2 linked regions of the Homo sapiens genome follow. The gene in region 2 interacts genetically with the main gene of each other region. Each region holds a gene or a part of one and is shown on either strand. Other genes may lie near its edges.

Region 1 (13,016 bases), on a different chromosome or scaffold from region 2:
CTCAAGTGTGTCACATGCCACTACTGTGCTGTACAACCTCTAGGATCTCATGGAAGGTAAACACAGGACAAAGGTTAGACCACCCTTCATCCCACTTGCAAATCAAATATCTATTAAATCCTCTCACTGTTTAAAGCAACTATGCCACTAGTGATGTCCATAAGATAAATTATTAACTTTGAACCGTTAGCTTTTCCATGTTTGGTGTTTCTTGCAGCAAAGCAATTTATTTTTACTCACAGATTTAAAACAACTTTAAAAATAACTTTTATATGCTGCTAGTAGGAAACAGCAAGTCTCCAGCATGCATTAATTTATGATCAGTCTATTAACTTGCAACTTAGAGAACAATGATAAGTAATCAGATAAAGAGGAAGGACAGATGGTTGGCGCATTTTTTACAGTTCCATATAACACGCGCAGGCCTTATTACACACTAGGTGAAGAGACAGGAATTTCTGAGGATGGACCTCAGAAGACAGTCACAGTCCTTGGGTGTGGGTGTGTACTGGCTCAACACCAGTCATCAGTGAATCAAGCAATTCCTGCAGTAGCTCAGTTAATTCCAGATCAAATAATAATGGGCACCTGGCCAACATGGTGAAACCCTGTCTCTACAAAACATACAAAAATTAGTCAGGTGTGGTGGCGGGCACCTGTAGTCCCAGCTACTCAGGGGGCTGAGACAGGAGAATCACTTGAACCCGGAAGGTGGAGGTTGCAGTGAGCCGAGGTCGGGCCACTGCACTCCAGCCTGGGGAAAAAAGTGAGACTCTGTCTCAATACAAAACAAAACAAACAAACAAAACAAAAACAATAATGCAGAGGGGGAATACAAATCCATTCTTTTCTCACTTGAGGAAGCCAAAACATTGCCGAAAGGGCCAAGTGCTCCAGGCAGGGTGTGTTTGCCTCCCTCCTCACAAGATGGTCCAGGCACCTGGGGAACCATGAAGATCTACAGCTGGACCCTTGGAAAGTGTGCATGGCCATCATTGCCATGTCTGCTTTAGTGATGATGGGGGAGAAAGCAGAGCAAGAGAAAAAAAACAAGAAATGGGCCAGTCACAGTCGTCATAGTAAAAGTCCTAAGGTAAAAAGAGCACAGGAAGAAATCATCAGGGTTTCTGAAGTGAAATGAAGAGGGTTATCAAAACTGGCCCAGGACTATGCAGGAAACAAAAAAGCAACACTCTTGAGGGAAAGTGAGACCCACCAGGGAAGCAAAGTGAGGGTTGGTGGGATGTCACCTGAGAGTCCCGCCATGGAGGCAAGGGATGGTCACCAAAGAGGAGAGCCAAGTGGAGCCTTTCTCCTGTCTGGCTCTTGGCGACTTCCCAGGGTCCAGACCACGGGAAGGACGTCTGGGGCAAAGTCATGTAGCCATGGAGAACACAGGCTCTCTGGTGAGAGCCCAGGCCCGCCTCCCCTAGTTGGAAGGCTGTCGTGCACACATGGGGCACGCTCCAGCCTCTACACCACCCTGTCACTGAATCCCCTCTGCGACCCTATGAAATAAGCACCAGGCCTACCCTCATTCTGCAGATGAGGAAACTGACACCCACAGGCATTGCTCAGCATGGCCAGCATCCCCTGCAGTCCCCAGGGGGCCCTGAGTTCAAGGCCAGGGCATATGGCAGAGTCTGCCCTGTGCACATCACGTCACCTCCCTGTGCTTCACAGGGAGCAAGAGGCTAACAAGTCACTTTAATGAAAACAAAACAAAACAAAAAACACCACAAGGCAGGTCTTAAGATTTTTTCGGTACATTTGCTTTGTATATTCATATGTTAGTCCCATGTCCACATTTTGCTTTTTCTACTTACAGAGAATTTACCCTCAAAATAGAGAGTAAATAGAAAGTTGCTGCTTTTTCTAGAATAAAATAGTCATCTATTGAATGTTAATGATTAGTTCTAGAATCACACTGACCTATCTCATTCTTTAGCCTGCTATAAAAATTTTCAGATTGAGAAAATCATTCATAGACATGACAATTTTGGACATACTGAGAACCAGTGGAAGTTTTCAAGCATTGTTGAAGACTTTGCTTTAAGAGCATTGTGATTCTAAGGGCTTTGAACACTTGGCACTGGTGGCTTATTTTGACTTCCAGCGTGGTGAGTCCCCTTTACCCTGCAAAGGTAGTAAATTCCTGGCTGAAAAAGTGCCCTGAGTATCCCTTTTCCCTCTCTGAGTCAAGAAACTCCTGAACATTTTCTCCATTTTTAATAAATGACATATATATTCTATCTTATGGCCAGAAAAAAATACAAAGGGACACTGATTTGTTAGGAGAATCAACTCTATGCCATCCAGGATGCATATATGATTGAAAAATGAGCAGAAATATCTGCTGCAAAATAGTAATAACAGAAAGCATGAGACAGTCAGAGAACCAGGCAAAGATGGAATCATCAACTTAACCAGCCAGCAAAGCTAGCTGTCCCTGATCTGGGAGTCAGATGTGTCAAACTGTGAACACGTCCGGGTCATCTGCGTCCTCATTCAGTTCCCCAGGATGCCAGGCCGCTGCCTGCCACACATGCAAAGGCTCAGGAAAAGTGTGTGCTGGTGCCGTTCTACATAGAGAGTGAAAATTCACGGGAGCAAACTCTTTTTGAAATAAATTGCATCTTCAGATATCATTTTTTCCCTTAAGGCCCATTTAGCCTCCACCATGCTGTGCTAAGCTGCGTCCTCAGACAGAGATGGGCTGAATGATTTAATCATCCTCTGTCTGCCTCTAAGGATGATACCACTGAATTGGTATGTTTGATGTCTACATTTCAAAATCACTGGGTATTAATTAGTTATCATCTGTTACTTTTGAGACTTCTCTTAAACTTAACTGGGCCTTTTATGGCTTGGCAGAACATCTTGTGAATGGGACATAGGGCGATTGTGAGATCAGTACTACTGTTAATAACATTACGTGGTACCTAGAGGTTCTCTCAACTAAAAATCAACCTTGAAAACAGTGTTCAGAAGTCACCAAGCCTGCAAAACTTCTACTAGGTGACCAATGTGCAGTCAACATGCCTGTGCTCACAACAGCCCCTCTCACCTGTGACCACCACCTCATGCTACCTCTTCCCTTGTCACCTAGTGAAAGAAGACAAGTGTGGGAGGAAAAAGAGTGCCCAATGTCTTCTCAATATTAAGTCAGAGGAATGCTAATATTTTCCTTTTCCAAAATGCGAATAAAAACAAAAAACCCCGAAGAATATAATATTGGCAACTCTCTTTGCCTTAGCACCCAATTCTCATCGGCTCCATCAGCAGAATTTAGGCCTTGAGTTCGTGACTACTTATCTCCCTGGCTATAGTTTGAATGTCTTGTTTTTGCAACTGAGCAACATTATGAACATTTAGTAGCCATTGCCCAAAGAATCTAAAAGCCTAGAATTCCTAGCCAAGACTTCAAGAACTCTGTCATGTGATAAGGAAAGATGGACTCAGATAATCACCCAAGTCTTCTGCCCTTCTGGGACTTTTCTCATTCAACTCTCTCCCTGACACCAGGCACGTCACTACTCTGCATCTAAACAAGAATCTCTAAAGGTGGAAAGTGAAGTGAAAAAGTAGGCAACTCACCTGATTCTTCATGTTGTCCCACTTCATCAAATTGCTGAACTTTCTGTTCTGCCTTGGCCAGGTAGATTTTTGTTGACTGAAGGTAAAATAATGATGCTTTTGCCCAAGTAACCTTTGCAAGACTTACAGGTTCAGTGGCTAAAGCCACCCTGAAATCAATATACTAACTGTCTGTTTACTGGAAGGGTTTACTTATTCAACAAGAGATACGTCATCACAGGCCTGAAAAATCGATGTGTTCTCCTGGCAATCCTCTCTAAACCTGCAGCACCTAGATAACAACTGGAGATCCATTGCTCAGCTGGAGTGCAGGACTTTTTCCTTTGCTACTTTATAATCATGAAATAGAAAATTGCTTTTGGGAAATTTCTGCCAGAGTACTGAAAAGTTTCCACTATGTTAGGAATAAACAATAACAAAACAGTTTCTTCCTTTCTTGTGGAGGAAAATGAACACTGCATTTTGAAATTTCTTCTGGGAGAGGCACATCACCGTCACTGAGAGATCTACTCACTGCCGCACTCTCCATTCCATTCCTTCAACCCAGAAAGTGCCTCCAAGTGAATAATTTGATGTGTGAAACCATCTCTTCTTAAAAGCCAATGCTTGCAAGTAAATCCCAGCCAGAATAGCTTATTACAAATGGTATGATATGGAAAATGAACACTCTTGGAGGGCCACACTGTTTCTTAAGTTTGTCTCTTTTTGTAAAAGCTGTTTCACACCCTAAAGAGGTTAAGTGTATGCCTTCATTTAAATCATAGAAATGAGTCTTACAAATCTATGTAAGGGAATTACTACAGCTTGCCATAGGCATTGCTAACTGACCCAACTGCTAAATCAAGTTGCCTTCTCCTTTCATTTTTTTTCTGCAAGTATTTATAGGTCTGGAAAATTTACAGAAGTTGATGACACAACGTTGAAAAGTCATACTTCTCATTTCTAAAGTAAATATTTTCAAGGCTCACAAATTCACTGCCCTGTATCTTATGGAATGGGCAGTTATAACACATACAGAAGAGACTTGAGTCTAAAAACTACTTCATAACAAAAAAGAAACCTGGGAAAGGAACCAAAACAGAGCAGAAATACACAGAAATATACAGAAATTGTGAGGGACATTAAGCATTAGTAACAGAAGTATAACAAATTTTGAGGAATACTTTATTTAGCCTTTGATTCACAAATAGAACTAAAAGTGATGGGGCATCCATAGCTAAAAAACCCAATGACGTCTTGAAGGAGGAATAAGTAACCTTGACCTGCATGTTGAGAGACAGTGCTGTGTAGCAGGAGAGCACCCAGTGCCCACTGATCACCAGCCTGGTGATTACGGACAACAGCAGAATCGCTCTGAGCCTGGGTCCCTCACCTCCCAATCTGGAAAGCTATCCCAATCCTGTGGGGTTGTAGGAGGCTGAGAGAGAAGAATGTTAAGGCATTGTGTAAACTATGAGGTGCTGTACAAATGCGAGGTGTTGTTATTATTATGACATCAATGTTTTAGCATCTAAATTATAGGGACAGCACACTTATTACCAGCATGTTTAAATACATATCTTGCATACATTTAGATTTGTTTTTAATTTTACAGATGTTTTCAGCTGGAAGGAGTCTGACGATCGTCTAGTTTAGCTGTTTTATGGAAGGTGAAACTGAGAGGGGAGACTCTAACCTGTTTTCTCTCCCCATTATAACTAACAACAAATTACAGAAAAAAATATGTTAAGCCGCGTACTAAGAAAAACTCCCTTAACAACACCACTTTTCAGGGAGCAATACATGTGTATGCATACTTGTATAACCATGAATACTGAGTGTGTTTGGTACTTTCTAACTTTTGAAAATTATATAGTATATTTTTACAGTCATTTGACAAAGTTTTTCATCTGCAGTCCTTTGCAAAGTTTCATTTCCAGTTATTTATAAAAATTTTTCTTTCTCTGTGAAGGCTAATTCATAACAGCTTGTAAAAAAGAAGGAGCGAGGAAGAGAAAGAAGGAAGGGAAGAAGAAAGAAAGCAAGGAAGGAAGAAGAAAGGGGAGTAAGAAAGAAAACAGGGCAATACACTATTCTCACTCATAAATGTCACCAGAAATTAAAAAAATCAAGAAACATCTATAAGGATAAGGTTTCTGATTCTCTATTAACATTGTAGCAAATTGAAGCCAAGAAAAAGTTCTATAGTGCACTCTATTTAAAAGCCTCTCAAAATTAGTACATTAAAAAACAACAGGTGACACAATAATTCTCCAATGACCACTTTTTTTTTGTTTTTTGACTGAGTCTTGCTCTGTCGCCTAGGCTGGAGTGTAGTGGTGTGATCTCAGCTCACTGCAACCCCTGCCTTCCAGGTTTAAGTGATTCTCCTGCCTCAGCCTCCTGAGTAGCTGGGACTACAGGCACGTGCCACCGCACCCAGCTGTTTTTTTTGTATTTTTAGTAGAGGCGGGTTTCACCATGTTGGTCAGGCAAGTCTCAAACTCCTGACCTTGTGATCCGCCCGCCTCGGCCTCTGAAAGTGCTGAGATTACAGGCATGAGCCACTGAGCCCAGCCAACCATCTTTTGTTTATCTGTCATATGTTTGGACTTAATCAAAAGTGGATGACATCTGACATTGGGGTTCCAGGGTTTTTGTTACCTATAAACAGATAATTGCTTAACTTTCTAATAATATATTAAAATATACTTTATTTTAAAAATCTAGTTGGAGCCATTAGATCTTGCAAGTTAGCACTAGAACAAACTTAAAATAGTTTGTCTAGTTTATCTTGTTCGGCACAATTTGAAGCATTTACAATGGCTTACAGTGTATGAGAATGAACTAGGAGATAATTTTGTAAGTGAATAGAAACCATTGTAATAAAATCTCCTGAAAGCTTTCAGGTATTCAATGATTGCTGGTAAATAAACAAAACCAGGTTTTTGAAATTAAAAAAATGTTTTTGAAAAAGTTTCTAAAATTTGGTATACAATGATCAGAAAATCTCAGGACACCTTTGCCTGTCCTTAAGGACCTGCACAAATTCACTAAGTGGTTTGTTTTTATTCCAGCACTAAAATAATGGATAATTTGAGTATCAGCAGAGACACTAAAACATGCACAGTTTTTCACATACAAATGCCAGTTTGTCTTATCAGAGAGACTATGTGCAATGCATCAATTTTATCCAAAACCTGGAGTAAAGGAAAGAAATTTTAGCAAAGGGTTGTAATGACATCATAAGTAAAACGATAGGACTGCTAAAACAATCATGACGTCATCTGCTGTGCACTGGCCTGCAAGCATGTAGTGGTAAAATCGTCAGATATCACATTTCTGCTTATAAAATAAAATCCTTCATGAATGCTCTTAAAACAACTGCAAAGCAAGCAGTGGTCTTTACCTCCATATGTGTGTGTGTGTGTATATATATATATATATATATATATATATATATATTTTTTTTTTTTTTTTTACATAAAGGCATGAATATACAAGGTAATGTCAGCAGCTGTACTCCACTCTTTATTTGTTGCAAATCTACCTATTTGTTTCCAAAGGATGTCTGCAAATAAATAGGTAACATTGTACAGCTTTCAACAGTGGATCAGAACATAGATGTCTCTTCTAATTCACAAGTACCAATGGCTCAATTAATTTAAGGGACATTTTCTGAGTTGTGTGATTTCACATGTATTTATCGTGTCTAGAACTGTGCAAACTTTTGTTTCATTTCTCTCTTAGATTTCTGTAGGAAGAGTTAAAGGATGTGAAGTAGTCATTTTACTTATTCATAACACATTTTAGGGAAAATTGTGCTGTTGCTGTTGGGGAGAAAGTTAAAGCTATCAACTATAACCTGGACTCCAGTCCAATTTTTCACATCTGGTTGCTACTTTTAAAAAGGATCATTTTAATTTTTAAATGCAGAATGTGTTGCACTTTATCTTTGACATTCCAGGTTTCCTCATGGTCATTTAGAAAAATAAAGCAGGAAATTCTAATGCCTTAGCATCTACTTTAATAAGATGTTTGCATTTATAAAAATAACAAGAAACTGAGGGTTTTGCTGAAGGAGCACAGGGCCTACAAGTATTTCCTCATTCCTGTCCCTGTGCCTGGAGGCCCAGCTAAGCATTCTGTTTCTGAGAAACTCCCCTTGTCACAGAGGCTGAATTAGTCAGTCCCTCTTTTGGGCTCCCACTGAAATCCCAAATCACATCTGTTATAAAACATTGCATTACAGGGAGTGATCTTGTATGTGTCTCTCTTTCTCAGCCCTTCCAAAAGGTAAGTCGGTCCTCAGAGGACAAGTGCAGTTATTTTGTTCCCTTGGTGTATCTAGATCCCAGCATGCGATGTGCCTGGAGTATATCAGCAGTTCTCAAAATCTGGCATGCATCAGTCAGAATCTCCCTGAGGACTTGTGTGCACAGACCGGGGCCTGCCCTTCCAGTGTCTTACTCAGAGGCCAGGGTGGGGTCCAAGAGTGTGCATCTCCAACAGGTTCTCAGGTGCTGCTGCCATGCTGGGCCCGCTGAAAGCCACTGCAGAAAGCTTTTTTTTTTCCCTTTTTTTTTTTGGCAGTTAAAGAGAGGTTTTCTTTAGTTAAAACCTGGGAGGCACTCCTGGTGAATTTTGGTCAAGAGCGCTTTCTCTTACAGACTAGGAGTATATATTGGTTTTAGGGTGAGGGAGATTATCAGAATTTTGGAATGTTCCTGTTTGAGGGAGAAGTTTTATGGCAGGGTTGGAATATCTCTGGGAGGAGGCAAGTTTATCTTGGGGCAGGCATCTTTCCGGCCAGAGAGAGGTTATCCCGAGACTGGCATCTTCCCTGCTGGAGGGGGGTTATCTCGGGACTAGCATGTCTCTGGTCGAGGAGGAGTTTCGAATGTTTCCGGTTGGAGATGTTATTTGTGGTTTATGGTCATGCTGACCTTAGCCATTAGGCTGATGCAGTTTGAATTTAGGCAGTTTTTTATTAAGGTGAACTTTAGAATGAGGGGCTTGTCCAAGATGGCGATGCTCCTGCTCTGTCGAGCCAGACCCTATAGTTATAAAAAGGAGGAGGGGTGGAGTGTTCTTTCTGGCTATTTCCTCACTGCAGGAAACTTTTAATGGACTAACTTGTGAAATAAAATGTGACTCTGGAACTGATTTACTAATGAAATATGCAACTGTTTCTGGATCTCGAAGGAGCTCATGAGATGAGTAAGAAATGGGGGTCTGAGAGCAAAGACAAGATTTCTTTCGTTACGAGCTACATACAACATGTAATCCACTCCTCAGAATTGCCAAGGGAGCTTTAAGAAATGTGTGTGTGCCAGGCTCCATTCCCCAGAAATACTGATTGTCCTGGTCTGGGGCACAGTAAGGCACCCTCTTTTTCAAAAGCCCCTCAGCTGGTTAGAAAGCATGGTCAAGGTTCAAAAGCTACTGCTTTAAGAAAAAAGAAAAAAAATCATCTCCTACTTTTTTTGGTTCAGCCACTAGCGTACAAAACCAAGTAATGTGATGTGGTCTTAAGCAGGGAACAAGAGATCCCCATTCCGAGTATTTGCAGCAATATATAAACATGACTTCTGGTACACTTATATGCACAATATATTATATTACCAGTTGCTGATAACTGCAACTAATCAGCTGCTGACTATAGCAGCCTCACCTAGAGAGAAGCTGGTATCCAGAACCCCTGGTGTGGCTCAATTTCGATGCTGACGGTGAGCATGAGACAGGTGGAGCCAGGAAACTGTGAGAGGAGAACTTGTTCTGTGATCTAAGACAAGTAACTGACACGGAAATATGTGAGCAAATGACAACTCAAGCCACATTGCTCTCCTGTGCTCTGGACCACCGTATTCTACTGCCTCCTGGACTTCTCCATCTGAGCACTTCAAGCTCAACACATCTAAAAGCTGAATATTGATATTGGACCCTCCTGCCCTTCCTCTTCTCCTCCCTTCCCTTCCCTTCCCTGCAGTCCCATTGACTTCCCAGCCTTTGTGATTGCATTCAGTATCTATCCAGGCTTCCAAGTGAGAAGCCTGGGTGTCAATCTGGGATTCTTTCTTTCTTATGCTGCTACATATACTTATCAACCAGTTCTGCCTCCTGATCAGCCCCGGAGTCCCCTGTCCTGAATCTTCCTTGCTCCTGCTTCATCCTCTGTCTCTGGCAATAGTCATGAACCTTCCTGTTTCCAATGCCACTCCTGCAGTCCATTCCCCAAACCGCTGCTGCAGCCATCTTTCTAAAACACCAAACACAGCATGTCAGTTCACAGTCACTTCTCTTTCACACAGGACAAAATCCAAAGCCACAGTGAGGATGGAGCTCTCTGTGAACTGTAGGTAGCCTTACCATTTATTCCTTCTCTTCCTGCCATTTGAATTACTAGCACTCTCAAGAACTTTGCTGCTATTGGCACTGCTTGTGTAATGCCCTGCACATCCTATTCTCTGGGGAAATAATCATATAACCAAATAGCTCAAATGAGTAATCCCTTCCATTTGTGGCTAAACGTGCTCTCCTCCCCATGTAGAATTAAAGGCAAAGACTGAACTCAAAAGTCATCCTTTGTCCTGGGAAGAGTTCCGTCATTGATTCTGTGACATTGTTTCACACTTATTATCTCTAGCTCTCTTTCCCCAGTTGACTTCCAGACACTTAAGGGCAATTACCAAGTCTAATTTATTCTTACATCTCAACATATGGATGCAACAGTGTAAATCACTCATCATGGCTCAAACATAAAGAAAAAAAAGCCTAAGTTGTAACAGGTACCAATACTTGCCCTTCTATGCAAAGGGCAAACAATCATGGTTGACTTACGTAATTATTTAAACTAAGTCAGGGCCATGTGTGCTGCCGCGCTAGTAATGGTGTAATTGCAGGTGTACTTAGGGCTGCCTGCAAGGCATTCTCATTGGGTGCCTTGTCCCCTAAATTATAACTTGAGTCTTTTGTTAATGAGAAGTTCCAGATATATTCAGAAAGGACACTTGGACTCCGAGTCTCTCCTTGAAAACCCACCAGAATGAGATAAAACTTGGATCAGAGAGAGAAATTCTACTCCCCCATGTTAGTGTTTCCATACTGCTTGCTAAAGCAAGCTGCTGAAACTGGTAGGAGTAAAATTTACTCTAAGCATATGCAATTCACAGATGCTCAGTCCACAGGACCAGTCATTTGATACTGAACTTCAGGGCCTTCAGGGATTGAAATGTCAAATCTAGCACTTACTTTCTAGGGGCTCAGTAAACACACCCCCAATATTCCTGGCCCCAACTACCCCTCCTGCTCCCAGCTGGCTCAGGGAACTTTCTAGACAACTGGATTGAGTGTATCTATCTAAATGTGTAGCAAGAAAGCTTTATCAGATGACTCTGAAAAAGTGAAAATTACAGGCAAACTAGTTATTTGAATAAGTTCCAATGCCTGGATTCTTGCCCAAATTCAAACTGGCCAGCTTGTGCCTATGGGCCCAATGGAGGACAATCTAGAGATGTCGTCCAAAGAGCCAACTGCTGGAATTTTCTTAGAAAATTCATTCCTGTAGGAGGAAAACGAAAAAGAACGAATGAGAAAACACTATGATGTTTAATGGGGATGGCCTACAGGAACAAGTTAAGATTTACACTCTATTCTCTATGGATTAGTGGTTCAAGAATAAACCAGTAATAATTAACTGAGACTAACAATGTTTATTACCATAATTTCAAATGTCCATAAGTGATAAAGGAAAACAAAAATGGAATGGATCTGAGGAACAGAATCTGTTTTTTTTTTTTTTTTTTTGAGATGGAGTCTCACACTGTCGCGCGGGCTGGAGTGCAATGGTGCGATCTTGGCTCACTGCAACCTCTGCCTCCTGGGTTCAAGCAATTCTCCTGCCTCAGCCTCCTGAGTAGCTGGGATTACAGGCACCTGCCACCACGCCCAGCTAATTTTTTTTGTATTTTTAGTAGAGACTGGGTTTCACCGTGTTGGTCAGCCTGGTCTCAAACTCCTGGCTTCATGATTCGCCTGCCTCGGCCTCCCAACGTTTTGGGATTATAGAGGTGAGCCACCATGCCCGGCCCAGAATCTGGTTTTAAAAATTATATTTACAGGGAAGCAACATGTGGGTGAACCATATTCTAAAACTTTGAAATTTTCTCAACACATACCCCTATTAGTAAAACCCAATGTTAAATAAGCTCATAACTAGAGTACTTATGAAGTCAAAATTAAAACACGCACACACAGACACACAGGCACACACACAAGTCACATGGCAAGGGCCACACTGTGTTGCAGGTGGGTTCTGCAACAGGCGAAATGTCCTCAACATTGTGACCCATCCCTATTCCGGGGCACCAGCCTGGGGTTACCTTCCCTTCAGTGCCCATAATCATCAATTGCCTTTAATATTAGAGTTGGTTTGTCACTCTCGTCAAAAAAGTTTCAGATGCTAGCTGCTAGTCTTAGAGCTTAGATCAAAGAAAAAACAAAGAATATTTTCTTTTCAAACAGGGAGGAATCCTTCATCTTTGCTGAGACTACTTCTAAAAACATTTCAGAACATGTTAGTGCTGTCACGTGGACCAAGTGTAATTATGCAGCACAATGGACTTTCGGCAATCGGTGTCTTCAAACCAGAAGTTTTTGAAAAATCATGAGTTATGAAACTAAATACGTGAAGCCAGAAATTACTGTTAAAAGCCTATTGGAGCTCTCAGCCAGTTTCTTGTATTCTGTGCTACGGCAGTGTGGGTCTAACACACAAACCACTGGTGTCCTTTCCAGATTTGAAAGCAATCTGGAAGCAAGAGCAGAAACCCTTAAAACTCACCCCCCCTTCAACCTTTAGCCCAGAATATCTAGCATATTCTATGCACTCAGTAAATATTCACTGAATTCAGAAACAACAGCTCAGAAGCCTGAAGGGTCAAAGTGACTTGTCCACCTTCACCCTGGGCTGGAGTGAGAAGAAAGGTCCCAATTGCCAGGCCGGGCTTGGGCTTTCTTGATCTGACCTCCTTTGAGGAGGGAGGGTGGGGTAGATCTCACTTTGGATACCATTAATATCCCCACTTTGGTTTCTCTTTAAGACAGCTCGGACCTACTGAATGGGAACGTCTCCAGAAGTGGGGCTGGGCGGGCTTATTTCCACAAAGCTCCCTCAGTTGGGAATTCGACTCGCCTTGGAATACTTTCCAGTGTCCCTTCTGGAGAGCACCTTCATCCTGTAAGAGGCAGGGCTTTGCTCAGCACCCCTCAAGCAGTCTCCACTCCATGCTCACTGAACTGAGGACTAAGCTGCCTCTATGGAAGGTGACCCAACAGAGGGCTGAGGAACTCGGCAGGAATGCAGACTGCCGGACAGCCCGCGTTGAAGCTTCAGACAGGCTCATCGTCATGAGCCGGCTCCCTGGGCCCTTTCCCCTTGC
Region 2 (13,016 bases):
CACGCCATTGCACTCCAGCCTGGGTGACAAAGTGAGACTCTGTCTCAAAAAAAAAAAAAAAAAGGATTAAATTAGATTATCACAAATAACAAATTAAATACATTTTTCCTTTTTTATGTAACAGGAGAAGAATTTCTCATGAGCTACCTTATATAGAGTAATAAACTTACCAAAAGGAAGAAAACTGAATGTTTGTGTTATAGTATTTAAATCTCAAATCATAACTTGGAAATCCCATTTTTAATAAAGAGAAAACACAGTTCCAATTGCAATTATTTTTTTAACTGTATAACCTACTGATTTCTTTGATTTTTTTTTTTCATGCTGTATCTTTTTATCCTGAACAGAGATTTGAAATTGGATAACTTATTGCTAGATACAGAGGGCTTTGTGAAAATTGCTGATTTTGGTCTTTGCAAAGAAGGTAATCGAATGTTTTTAAGTTTCTTTTCTGATTCAGAATTACTGTTTCTTTGTGCATCAGTAGTTTTCAAGTTTGTCTATGGAAAACAAACTGTACTTTTAACTTTATTCTTCATTAAGACATTGTAGATACAATGAAAACATTGCTTATATAACCTAATTATCACATTAAGAATTTGTTCTCTGAATACAAATAAGGTTAGATGTATAGAAATCATAGTAAGCTTCTCTGTGTGATTAATAATTTTGTCACTACTTTAAGGAAGTATTGATTAAGCACCAAAATCGTTTATTCTGGTGAGACTGTACACAGTGAATTTCATAGGCCTGATAATTTCCTTCCAGCTTCTTAAAGTTGAAACATTTAAAAATAGAAAATAAATAGAGATAGGTATCTCATGTATGTTTTTTGTATATTCAAAAGTAAATAAGTAAATTGGGGAAATTTGAATCAGAGGTAACATAAGAAAGGATAAAGATCATGGGCTTAGGCACTAAACAGTTCTAGGTTTGAATCGTGGCTTTGCCACTATTTGCTGTTTGTCTTTGGAAAACTTAGTTTTAACCTCTTTGAGTCTTATTTCCCCAATTATAAAAAAATGGACATAGTTCTTTCTGTTTACTAGTTACTAACATTCTCTATCTCCCTCTGCACTGGTGGCTTCTGTTTGCTATTTAGCTTTGTTTCCATAGTGCATAACACAGTGCATGGTACATCTTAAGTATTCAGTAAGTGTTTGATTAATAAGTAGTTGGATGAATAAATGAATGAACTCTGTAGATATATGCCCATCACATACCCACTGACCTAATTGCTGAATCAAGTAAGTTTTTTCTTGACTGGGCTTCTTTTTATTGGACACTGTTCCTCTAAATGCTTTTGTTTCTCAGCATCTCTCCTTAGCCGGCTGCTCTTCACTGCAATTTTTTGACTAGCAGCTATATCCTAATGACTCCCAAATCTATTATTTCCTTTCCTATGGATTCCAAAGATATATATTCAACTGTCTACTAGACAGCTCTGCCTGAATAGTGAAGAGACACCTCAAACACTACCCAAACAAAAATCATTTATTTTCCGCCGGTAGTCTGGGTGTTGGTATCACAATCCCCTCAGCCTTCAATCTGAAAGTAAGGAATTATCTTGCGTTCTATCCTGTTCTCTACTTCCCGTATGTAGTTATTCACAAAATTCTACTGCCACTTAACCTCCTGAATATTTCTGAAATCTATCATTTCCAGTCAGCTCCTTTCACCCATTATCTTGTTTTGACAAGACAGGTATAATAATCTCCTAATTGTTCCTATTTCTAGTCTTTTTCTATCCCAAATCAACCTGCCATGTAATTGCTGAATTGCTTAAGGAGTCCATATAAATACAGATCGGACCATGGCACATACCTGCTGAAAACTCTTCAGTGGCTAGGATAAGGTGACATACAGTGCCGTTACTGATCTGCCTGCCTTCCTCTCTGGCCACATCTCTTGCTGCTCTCTGTTTAGTACTTTTTGCTGCAGCAACAATGAACTGCTTATAGTCTGTGTCCCTCTAGCACTGTCACCCATCCCAACTCTATTTGCTGACTAACATCTGCTCATCCTTGTCATTCAACTCAAGTGTAACCTCTACAGGCAAGTTACCAGAGATTCCCTTTTACTACCCCAACTCCCAAGTCTGCTTTAGGAGCCCTTCTTCACTATTCTACCTTATCTTGCTCTTCCCTTGTTGTTATAAAATTATCAATAAATATCCATTTCCCTCCAGTCTCCTGTAAGCCCCTTAAAGACTGTGTCTTACTCTCGTTTTTATGTTCCCGCTACTTGACACAGGTGCCTAGAACATAAAAGGTGCAGAAAATATGTGTGTTGAATAACCAGACTTATTAATGCATTATCATAAAAACATGTTTAGTAGATTATATAGCTAACAACTTTTGAGTGCTTACCGTGTGCCAAGAATTTTGCTTCATATGCATATCTCCTGTAATTTATAACAATCGTATGAAGGTAGATAGTTTTTTTGGAGGAAATATTTTATTTTTTATTTTATTTTTATTTATATAAATTTATAGGGTAGAAGTGCAATTTTGTTACATGCATAAATTGCATAGTGGTGAAATCAAGGCTTTTAGGATATTCGTCACCCAAATAACATACATTGTACCTATTAAGTAATTTCTCATCATCCACCCCCCTTCCACCTCCTCACCCTTCTGAGTCTTCCTTGTCTTATCATTCCACACTGGTAGATGGTATTATTAACTCTCATATACAGATGAAGAAACCTAGAATTTGATGTTAGACAACTTTCCCAACCTCCCACAGTTAACAAATGACAGAACTGGAACTTAAACCAGGTATTTATTAATCTAGAGCCTGATATTAACCACTTCCATGGAGTTTTACCAGTCTACAAGAAACATAAGTTATATTTCTTCATTAATTAACTTTTTCCTAGTTTTCTCCAAGTTACTAAAAGGCTGGTGCAGAACTTACATAGATATTAATACTATATCACTGTTTTTTTAAATAATATTTTATTGAAGAAAATAAAAATCATTATGATAGTGTTAAAGAAATTTTGCCAAAAAAAAATTTCTCCACTCCAGTGTGCTAATGTATCTAATTGTGCCCTTCAGGTCTTGGTTCATAGACACACATTCATTTCTATTTTATAGTCACTATATATGCATACCTAATTATTCTTAATTTAGGATTGAGAGCTTTTCTTTAAAATTCTTAAAAAGATGACACTTATGACAAGTTTTTAACACTTTGGAATACATAGAGATAATATCTTCAATATGTAGACTATATATTTGATTAACATATTAATAAATTATGAGGAACATATATTTAAAAACTAGTTAGCCAAAATGTTAATACAGGCTGAGTATCCCTTATCCAAAATGCTTAGAATGAGAAATGTTTTGAATTTCAGATTTATTTGGATTTTGGAATATTTGCATATATAAATAATGACATATCTTGAGGCCAAGACCCAAGTCTAAACACAAAATTTATATATGTTTCATATATACCTTATACATAGCCTGAAGGTAAATTTATATAATATTTTTAATAATTTTGTGCATGAAACTAATCTTAAGTACTTGCGGAATTCTCTATGGCATCATGTTGGTGCCCAAAAAGTTTCAGATTTTGAAGCATTTTAGATTTTGGATTTTTGGATTAGGGATGTTCAACCTGTACTCTCCCTTCCCTCCCCTTCCCTTCCCTTCCCTTCCCTTCCCTCCCCTCTTCTCCCCTCCCCTCCCGTCCCCTCCTCTCTCTCTCTCTATATATAATATATATTGAGATATATATATGTTTTTTGTTTGTTTGTTTTTTGAGACAGAGTTTTGCTCTTGTCACCCAGGCTGGAGTGCAATGACACAATCTCAGCTCACTGCAGCCTCCGTCTCCCAAGTTCAAGCAGTTCTCCTGCCTCAACCTCCCGAGTAGCTGAGATTACAGGCGGGAGCCACCATGCCCGGCTAATTTTTGTTTTTGTTTTTTTTGTAGAGACGGGTTTCATCATGTTGGCCAGGCTGGTCTTGAACTCCTGACCTCAGGTGATCCACCCGCCTCGGCCTCCCAAAGTGCCGTGATTACAAGCATGAGCCACTGCACACGGCCCTATCTCTCTGTATTATATGACACATTTGGTCAGCTTCTGATTATCCAAGGGTTTGCTTTTTGGTATTTTTGAAACTTATTTTTTTTAGAATGTTGATTTTATAATGAAGTAAATAAACTTATTTAAGATTGAATTGGAAAGATAATGGAACTTCACAATCAGTTCATTTTGTTATAATTTCTTAGCTCCCTTGTAATGACAAGAAGAAAAAGTAACTGAAAAGAAACATGGATATCTTATTTCTATTTACCCATTAATTAGACAGTATAGTTGCTATTGCAGTTTTTGCTATACCAGTCCTTACTGTTTTCTTGAAATGTCTTAGATATGTCTGAATTTGTTCACCATGCACAAATGTGCAACTTTAATTTTGCCTCCCAAAGATAGCTTTGATTTTTTTTTTATGCTAGATTTGTTTTCTTTGCTAACAAATGTTTACATTTTATCTTTTCCAGGAATGGGATATGGAGATAGAACAAGCACATTTTGTGGCACTCCTGAATTTCTTGCCCCAGAAGTATTAACAGAAACTTCTTATACAAGGGCTGTAGATTGGTGGGGCCTTGGCGTGCTTATATATGAAATGCTTGTTGGTGAGGTAAGCAGTGTGAAATAGGTAAGAGAACAGAGGAAGGATGATTGAAATAATAAAGCATGTCATTTATAAAACCACCTAATACTGTCTTCAGTATGAGTGGAATTTAAGTTTTATAAATATTTATAGTATACTAGTAGTCAGCTATCTTTCTGTAATACCTTCAATAAAGATTTTTATGTGGTTTGTGGAATGCACTATCAGTGCTTTGAAAATAGTTCCTTGTATTTCAGTATTGTACTTTTATTATGTTTTCTGATTTTAAGACATAGTCATTTTATAGGGAATGGAATAACAGAAAGACTAATAAAAGGAATGTACTCTGTACCTGTAAAGAAAAGCCCACTATAGATTGGTCAGAAATAAATGTTACCTTCGACTTCCTCCAGACTTCCGTCTGAGCAACACACTCTGCATCCTTGCTTCACCGGGAAACTACTGAAGTTCCTGGGGAAGCAAAGTAGAATTTCGTAAGAACAAAATGGATGGAGAGAGGAGAAAACCTATGGTAGCTGTGAAGGCCCTGATGCCATGTATGTCAAATTGATATCATCCGATGGCCATGAATTTATTGTAAAAACAGAACGTACATTAACATCAGCACGATAAAAGCCATGTTGAGTGGCCCAGGTCAATTTGCTGAGAATGAAACCAATGAGGTCAATTTGAGAGAGATACCTTCACATGTGCTATCAAAAGTATTCGCTACACCAACAGCTCCACCGAGATTCCTGAATTCCCAGTTGCACCTGAAGTTGCTATAGAACTGCTGATGGCTGTGAACTTCCTAGATTGTTAAATAAAATATAATTTTAAAAAAATGAAAGAAGTGTTACCTTAAAAAATGGTAGAGTTGAAAAAATTCGCATTTTTTCCTACTGTTTTCTGTAGATTAACTTAAATTTCTGAGGATAATTGAGTTGTACATAGAAATTATTACTATTAGGAAACAGTGAGTTATGTTAAGGCAATAATAGGAGACTAATAATTTATTATGTTATAAATTGTTAGAAATGTTGAATTGGGATGAAATTGGGAAAGAGTAAATCTTTTAATAAGTAATTGAAGATTACTTGAAGGGACTTGAACTGGAGATGCAAGAAAAATTATTTTAAGGGATTGGTTCATTATTCTGCAGTTTCCCCATGCCAGCAACCTCCCTTGTACACTTGTAAGTTTGAAGAAGTTAGTGCTGAATGAACAAATTATCAAATTGAATATCAGAAATTTCTAAAGTTTTGTTCTATGCTTGTCATTTATTGGCACTTACCCCAAACAAATGGTTTTAGTTTCGCCGGATGGATAACCCCTTTTGGTATGTCAATTTGAAGTGGATTCCTTGGAAAAGGAGGAGAAGTATGGCTAATTAAAATTTATCATGTGCTAAGCACTGTACTGTATGCCTTAAATATTAGTTCATTTAATTTTGCAACAGCCTTTAATAAGCTCAGTACTGATCTTCTGCCCATTTTCGGAGGTGTAAATAGAGACACAAAGAGATTAATGACTTGCTTAAAGTCACACAGCTCTCATATGGTGGAGCTGGAATTTTAACCTTGTCACTCTGGCTCCAGAGCATATCTAAAGCATTATGCTTTGCTGCTCCAGGACAGGATCTTCAATTCATCCAGCCTTGTTTCTGTTCTTAAGACTAGTGGTCCAGATCTGAATTTTTCACCTCTATTTAGAAAAGCTGTTGTGCAGTGTTTAGGTTGGAAAGATTTATTTTAGCTCCAGTCCACAGTGGCTTTTACTTTCTGAGAGTGCCAGAAGTTCTCATAAAATAGTTAATCTGCTGTAAGCTCTGGCATACTTGAACTCCTCCCCACCCCCTTCCTTTATTTTAACAGTAACATTTTGGAGGGTTTTTTTGGTTTTGTTTCATGTAGTATTCAAGTAAGTATGAGATTTATGAGATTCAATTATGTGCTTGCTTAAAATTTACTCTCCATATTAGAGATGACATGTGCAAAATATGAGTTTATTACAAAATACTGTAGAATTAATCCAGTTGAATCTACTCCCTCCTATTATAAAGCCACTGGAGGGTTTGGCAGAAAACAAGGAAGCTCCTGTTTCATGTTTTTTAAAAGAGCTAATTGATTGAGCTCTTAATTACCTAGAAGATAAAAGACAGTGGATCTGGCTATTTCTTCACAGTTGTTTCTTGCAATTTCTCTTTAGTATCTCCACAAGAGGGTAGCTGGGAAAAGAACTAAACTTAAAACTCATCAGTCTACTTCATAATTTTATAGCATTAGTGAAATGCTAGTGATAACTCCTTTTTAACTATGATGAAAGTAAGGTGTGGCTAAAGTTTATGTCAGATTTCTCTATTATTACAAATAATTGTAAACTCACCGGATATATTATACATGTTCAGATTTGTATACTTCTACTAGTTTTGATTACTGGAAAGACTCCAGGAATAAACAAACATCGCAAGTCCCCTTTTTCCTGTCTCAGATGGGAGTGAAGATACCAGAGAGATTGAACAGAATGCTGGACATGGTTTTAGATACTGTCAGTGTTGACATCTGAACAGACTATTGGTTTCCTTTAAATGTGCTGAAAACACATTTGTTAGCTTTCAGTTGTTAGCCCTGTTTGCTTACAATCTATTTGCAGAAAAAAGATACTACATATTTTAACAAATGTATAGATATTTCTTTGCTGTTCAGACTTGTAGAATGAGTTTTCAAGTAAAAATTGTTCAAGCAGAAGACCAAAGTGCTGTCTTTGTATTATCCATTGAAATTCCCATTGAGAATCCTAGTAAAATAAAATTTTCTTCTGACTTACTGTTTCAGTCCCCAGAAGAAATTAGATTGTCCATGTAGTACATTTGATTTATGTATTTTGAGTGTACTACATTGTCCCACGTAGTATATTTTATTTATGTATTTTGAGTGAGTGAATGAACAAACTAAGGTTTTGGTAACTGTAAGCTTTGAAATTTTCTTAGCTGTGAGCAAGATTAGAAGCTCAGCCTTAAGAAGTTGGATTCTGAATTTATTTTCACAGATTCTTAAAGATTGCTCACTTTCCCTGGATATTGCTTTCTGCTTATTATTCTTTAAAACTTAATTGGAAGCAAGCAGCCAAATCAAATCTAACGAGGCTAAGTAAGCCTATATTTCTTCAATAGCCAGTGAGAAAATAAGGTTCAAGATACTAATTCATTTCAGTGATTTTAAGGAATTAAATGATATTTAGACATTTGTTTCCTGATTTAAAAAATGACTGAGTGATTTTTAAGCCATCTGAAATTCTGAGGCAGGCAGTCACATTTGATAGACACGTTTTTAGCATAGTTGAAAGTTTCTCTCTTTGTGAATCAAATTGTCATACTGAATATAATGTAACTACTTTTTTATGTCTCAGGGTCATTATGAAAAATGATTTTAATACTGAGCTTATGGAAATGCCCTAAAACTTTTTGTGTTTAGAACATTAAAAATGCCTGGCAATGTGTGCTTTTTGGGTTCCTTTCAGTCTAATTTTGTTGGCAGCTGCTTCTTAATACAGTCATTATGCTTGCTAATCCATGATTGTGTTTTACCACCATTAATTTACTGTTGACTTTAAAATCCAAAGCACATTTATATCTGATGTATTTCCGCAGATTGCCTTCCTTTATTATAACATTTATTACCATATTAACCTTATCCATTTTCTTCTGTTTTTCCACAAGATTGAGGTTCTTCAGGATTTATCTATTATCTAAATATTCCCTACTGTCTGTTAGACACTAAAAATTGACTGTCTGGCCAAATAGGTGATTGAGTGAATGAAATAAAATGGAATGGAGTGGAATGAAATTAAATGAAAAGTCATATCATATATGAGATAGACAAGTTTTTTATAAGGGTCTATAAAATTTAAAGATTTCAGAAAGAGTATATGGTGTATTCCCTCTGTAATAGATACATATCTGTTGTCACTTCTTATAGTTCTTTTGTTGTTGTTTTGGTAGGCATGGGTTTATTGTTGTTGTTGTTGTTGTTGTTGTTTTGTCTGTTTTTTCTTTTTCACTGCCTGGATCTTGGTTGTACTTTGAATGGGTGATAAGATTTTACTGCCTTAAAACTTGCTTTAACTTACTCAAAGGTATTTCTTCTAGTCTCCCTTTCCTGGTGATGATGAAGAGGAAGTTTTTGACAGTATTGTAAATGATGAAGTAAGGTATCCAAGGTTCTTATCTACAGAAGCCATTTCTATAATGAGAAGGGTAAGAATTAAAATAAGGATAAGAATTTTTTAAAGACTACTTTAATTTTTTATACTAAAGAAAATTTCCCAGTAGAACTTTAAAAGCTGTTTTTCAGTTCATAAATGTTGCATGGCTTAGACAAAAAAAGACAAAATATATCTAAGTTTTTTAAAGTAATAATCCTTATCAGTGAATTTTATTCTATTGGTTTTATTTTAACTTTTTTATTTTACATTATGCTAGCTGTTAAGAAGAAATCCTGAACGGCGCCTTGGGGCTAGCGAGAAAGATGCAGAGGATGTAAAAAAGCACCCATTTTTCCGGGTAAGTGTGACTATTTAAAATTTTTTATGAAACTAGAGCGATTAGATTTAACAAACTAAACTAGTCATTTTTTATTTTATGATCCAGCTAATTGATTGGAGCGCTCTGATGGACAAAAAAGTAAAGCCACCATTTATACCTACCATAAGAGGACGAGAAGATGTTAGTAATTTTGATGATGAATTTACCTCAGAAGCACCTATTCTGACTCCACCTCGAGAACCAAGGATACTTTCGGAAGAGGAGCAGGAAATGTTCAGAGATTTTGACTACATTGCTGATTGGTGTTAAGTTGCTAGACACTGCGAAACCAAGCTGACTCACAAGAAGACCTCTTAAAAATAGCAACCCTTCATTTGCTCTCTGTGCCACCAATAGCTTCTGAGTTTTTTGTTGTTGTTGTTTTTATTGAAACACGTGAAGATTTGTTTAAAAGTACCATTCTAATACTTCTTCAAAAGTGGCTCCTCATTGTACTTCAGCGTAAATATGAGCACTGGAAACAGTTTCATGGAGTTTAAGTTGAGTGAACATCGGCCATGAAAATCCATCACGAATACTTTTGGATCAATAGTCTATTTTTAAAAAGAAAGAAAAAAACCACTTTTTTATAGTCCCTAGCTTTGCCATATGCCCGCCTTAAGTGGAAGGAAAGTTAATCACTTAACTATGTTTTATAAAAAGAAAAAAGGGCTTGGAATGCTATTACTGTTCACACAAAGTATGATTCTGTTTGAATAAGGCAAATGCTCCTTTTTTTAAAAAAAAAGACATTACTGTAATATCAAAAACCGTGGCAGTTTGTATACAACTCGGGGCTTGATTTTTTTTAAAAAAACAGAATGAATTGATGTCTTATTTTATAAATGTTCTATATTTATTAGGAGAAAACTTTATATTGCCTTTTTTATCAATCATGTAACAGGCTTATAGCTTTCCAACAGAGCTGCTTGCCAAACAATTTTTTTTGTTTATTAAACAGTGCTGAAACAAACAGGATCAGCATTTACTTAAGATGTTAAGAATGAGGACTTTTAATCAGCCGAACCAAGATATTGTTACCTGTATGCATTCCCAAAGTCTAGATGCTCAGTATGTTCAGTCATATCTTTCAGAATCAGTGAACCGATTACCCTTTTTTTGGTATTCACTCTACATCTGCCAACCTAGTTCACCTTGGTTTTGTGTCTGCTGTAGAAGGGAACCATAACTTGGTTAAACCGTAGGGATTATCATTGTATACATGCTGTGAACATGTATATGTGCAAGTTTTAATGTATTCTATGTTGTAGGCTTATTATTTAATTTTACCACTTCATCACTTTTGTACAGTGGCCAAGCAGACACCTCAAACTCCAGCATTTACATTAAGTGCATTTGTACATTTTAGGCCACTGGATCCAGATTTTATATTGGCAGTTATTGAGGGCAAAAGCAATATATTGTAACAGAATGTATAAATATTTTTGATAAAACAGTCTATATTTTATTAAAAAATGAATTATAACACTAAAGCTGTACCTCAAAAGTCTCAAAAATAATTTGATGAAATATTTTATACAACTCTTCAAAGGATCCGTCTGTGGCTTTTTATACTCTTTTAGGGTTGTCTTTTTACAAACCATGACTTTCCACTTGCCTGTAGTTTTTTGTTTGTTTTGGTTTGGTTTGATTTTATATTTTTTTCTCCTAATCTATGACTTTATTGTTTTTTCTTAGTTTAGTAATAGCATCTTTGATCCTGTGCTTAGCATGTTAGGGTCATTATACCTCAGGAATAGCAAGCTGTTAAGTAACCATACTGAATTAACTATTTAATTACAGTGAGCTCATCTCTTAAAAATTGTTCAGGTGTAAATCTTATGAGAAACATGAAAAAGCACACTGATTTATGGAGAGTTGAGCTAAAAACATTTATAAATATTTGCTGGGATGTTTTAGCATCTTTTCATTGTACTCTGAGAACAATTAAAATTGTCCAGAGATCATTTATATTACCTTCCAAATTGTTTATTACCCAAGATCCTTTGGGAGAAAATCTTATAGAATGGGGGAACAATATGTGGTTTAAAGTTATTTTAAAATGCCAGTTAATTTCCTCGGCAAAGGACAATAGAGGAACTTAGCTTAATTGTCTGGCTTTAATTTAAACTGTGTTAATACAACATTAAAATAAAACACTAAATACTTTTGAGGTACAGTCTGCTCACTTTTTTGGTTCTCAAATAGCAAAGAAAGTAATGTCTAAAATAGGCTCTTAGCATTAAAAACTGACAGCATTTCGTAACTACACAGTGTACAGAATTTTTTTTTAATTGAAGTCAATCACTAAAAAAATTAGAAGGCAGGGTCTATTTACACAATTAAGCTGAAGAAAGCACTAATTTTTTGTAGTTTAAAATATATATATATTTTAGTCAGATTTAAAATTTTAAGCTTTATAGAGTGTAAATATATTTTGCTATTACTGTATGTGTATGTGACTGCTCAAGCACTTTGTAAAGAAATTAGGATATTTTAGAATGGTACACTATGCATTCAAATGAAATGTGCCTTTCACTATGTCATTCTAAGAAAACAAGTGTTTTTTGCAGTCATAAATTATCACAAATGCACAAATTAAAGTCTATATAGATTGAAATTTGTAACTTTGGTTTTAAGTATTCTTTCCTTTTAGAAACTTCCTAATGATTAAAATATACTTTAACTTTTCTGTGTTCAAAATCTCAAAGACTAATTAACTTTAATAAACATTCTTGCAAGTACTTTTTGTCCTAGTGAAGGCTTAAAACCATGAACATTCAGAGCAAACTGTCCACTTCATTGGGAATAATGGGAAAAGTTTGTATTCTGCTCCTGTAAGGTCAGTAGCATCTTTTATTTGAAGCATATTTATGGACTGCTTACTGTGTATAGATACTGAGAATAGGAAGTTTTTTTTTTTAAAGCAACAAAATGTTGATGAATGAAGAACAGCCTGTTTTAATTAAGATGCAAGCACCAGTATTGTATGTACTTTTCTCTTGTTTGAGGTTAGCTTATTTTAATTTAGGACCTGGCTTCTCAAAAAGGCAAATGAATAAAACAGAATACTAGTATTTTATAGTAATCTTACTTAAAAATTACAAATGGAATATTTTAGAAATATAAAATGATCCATGCTCTCCCTGTAACACAAATTGAGGACATAATGGAAATTGCAATCATATATTGACTTGGTAAATCTGCTGTACAGATTCAAGTCTAACAAGATTTTTGCAAGTACTGCCAGTATTCCCAAAGCCACTGAAGGAGTAAGTATGAAAAATCCAAAGAAGCAAATACTAATCCACAGATCATAACCTTAATTTAAATTTAGAATTCTTATTTACCTTCCAGCCATCTTTTGAGGTCTAGGGTTTTTCTGAGATACTGGCTTTATACATTAGTATGATGGGTAGAGGCTTTAAAGTTATTAAAAATAATATGTATACATATACATATAAAATTAGTGGAAGACCGTCAATAAGATACGTAATTTGAGGTATTGATGATCTCAATAAAGGTAAGAGTGGTCTCTGGCAACCCTTCACCCCAAAACAAGCAAACAAACTTGAGCAGAGTCTGGACAAGTTAGGGCTTCAGCACCTAAGAGTTAGAGTGGGAGTGCTCAAGCACAAAAGTAGGAATATTGAGAGAACTGGAAGCTGAGTCTACAGAGTATGGCAGAGTAGCAGGAAGTTGGAAAAGATAGGAGTCACAATGGCAAGGAGCAGGTTTTGAAAATGCAGGCACCCAAGAGAAGTGGGGTTACCAAGGATAGATTTCTCTAGCAACACAAT

Evidence for each region.
Region 1: changes in PKN2 (region 2) and EGFR together harm fitness more than expected from each alone (negative genetic interaction), as found in Homo sapiens cells (2 studies listed by BioGRID).

Annotation. Positions count from the first base shown.
Region 1 is NC_000007.14:55,022,017-55,035,032, reverse strand, and holds part of EGFR (epidermal growth factor receptor isoform a precursor), read right to left. Parts: intron 1-13,016. UniProt on the Homo sapiens protein: Receptor tyrosine kinase binding ligands of the EGF family and activating several signaling cascades to convert extracellular cues into appropriate cellular responses.
Region 2 is NC_000001.11:88,823,963-88,836,978, forward strand, and holds the end of PKN2 (serine/threonine-protein kinase N2), read left to right. Parts: intron 1-347; coding exon 348-424; intron 425-4,518; coding exon 4,519-4,661; intron 4,662-8,781; coding exon 8,782-8,889; intron 8,890-9,114; coding exon 9,115-9,195; intron 9,196-9,282; coding exon 9,283-9,486; 3' UTR 9,487-12,293; downstream 12,294-13,016. UniProt on the Homo sapiens protein: PKC-related serine/threonine-protein kinase and Rho/Rac effector protein that participates in specific signal transduction responses in the cell.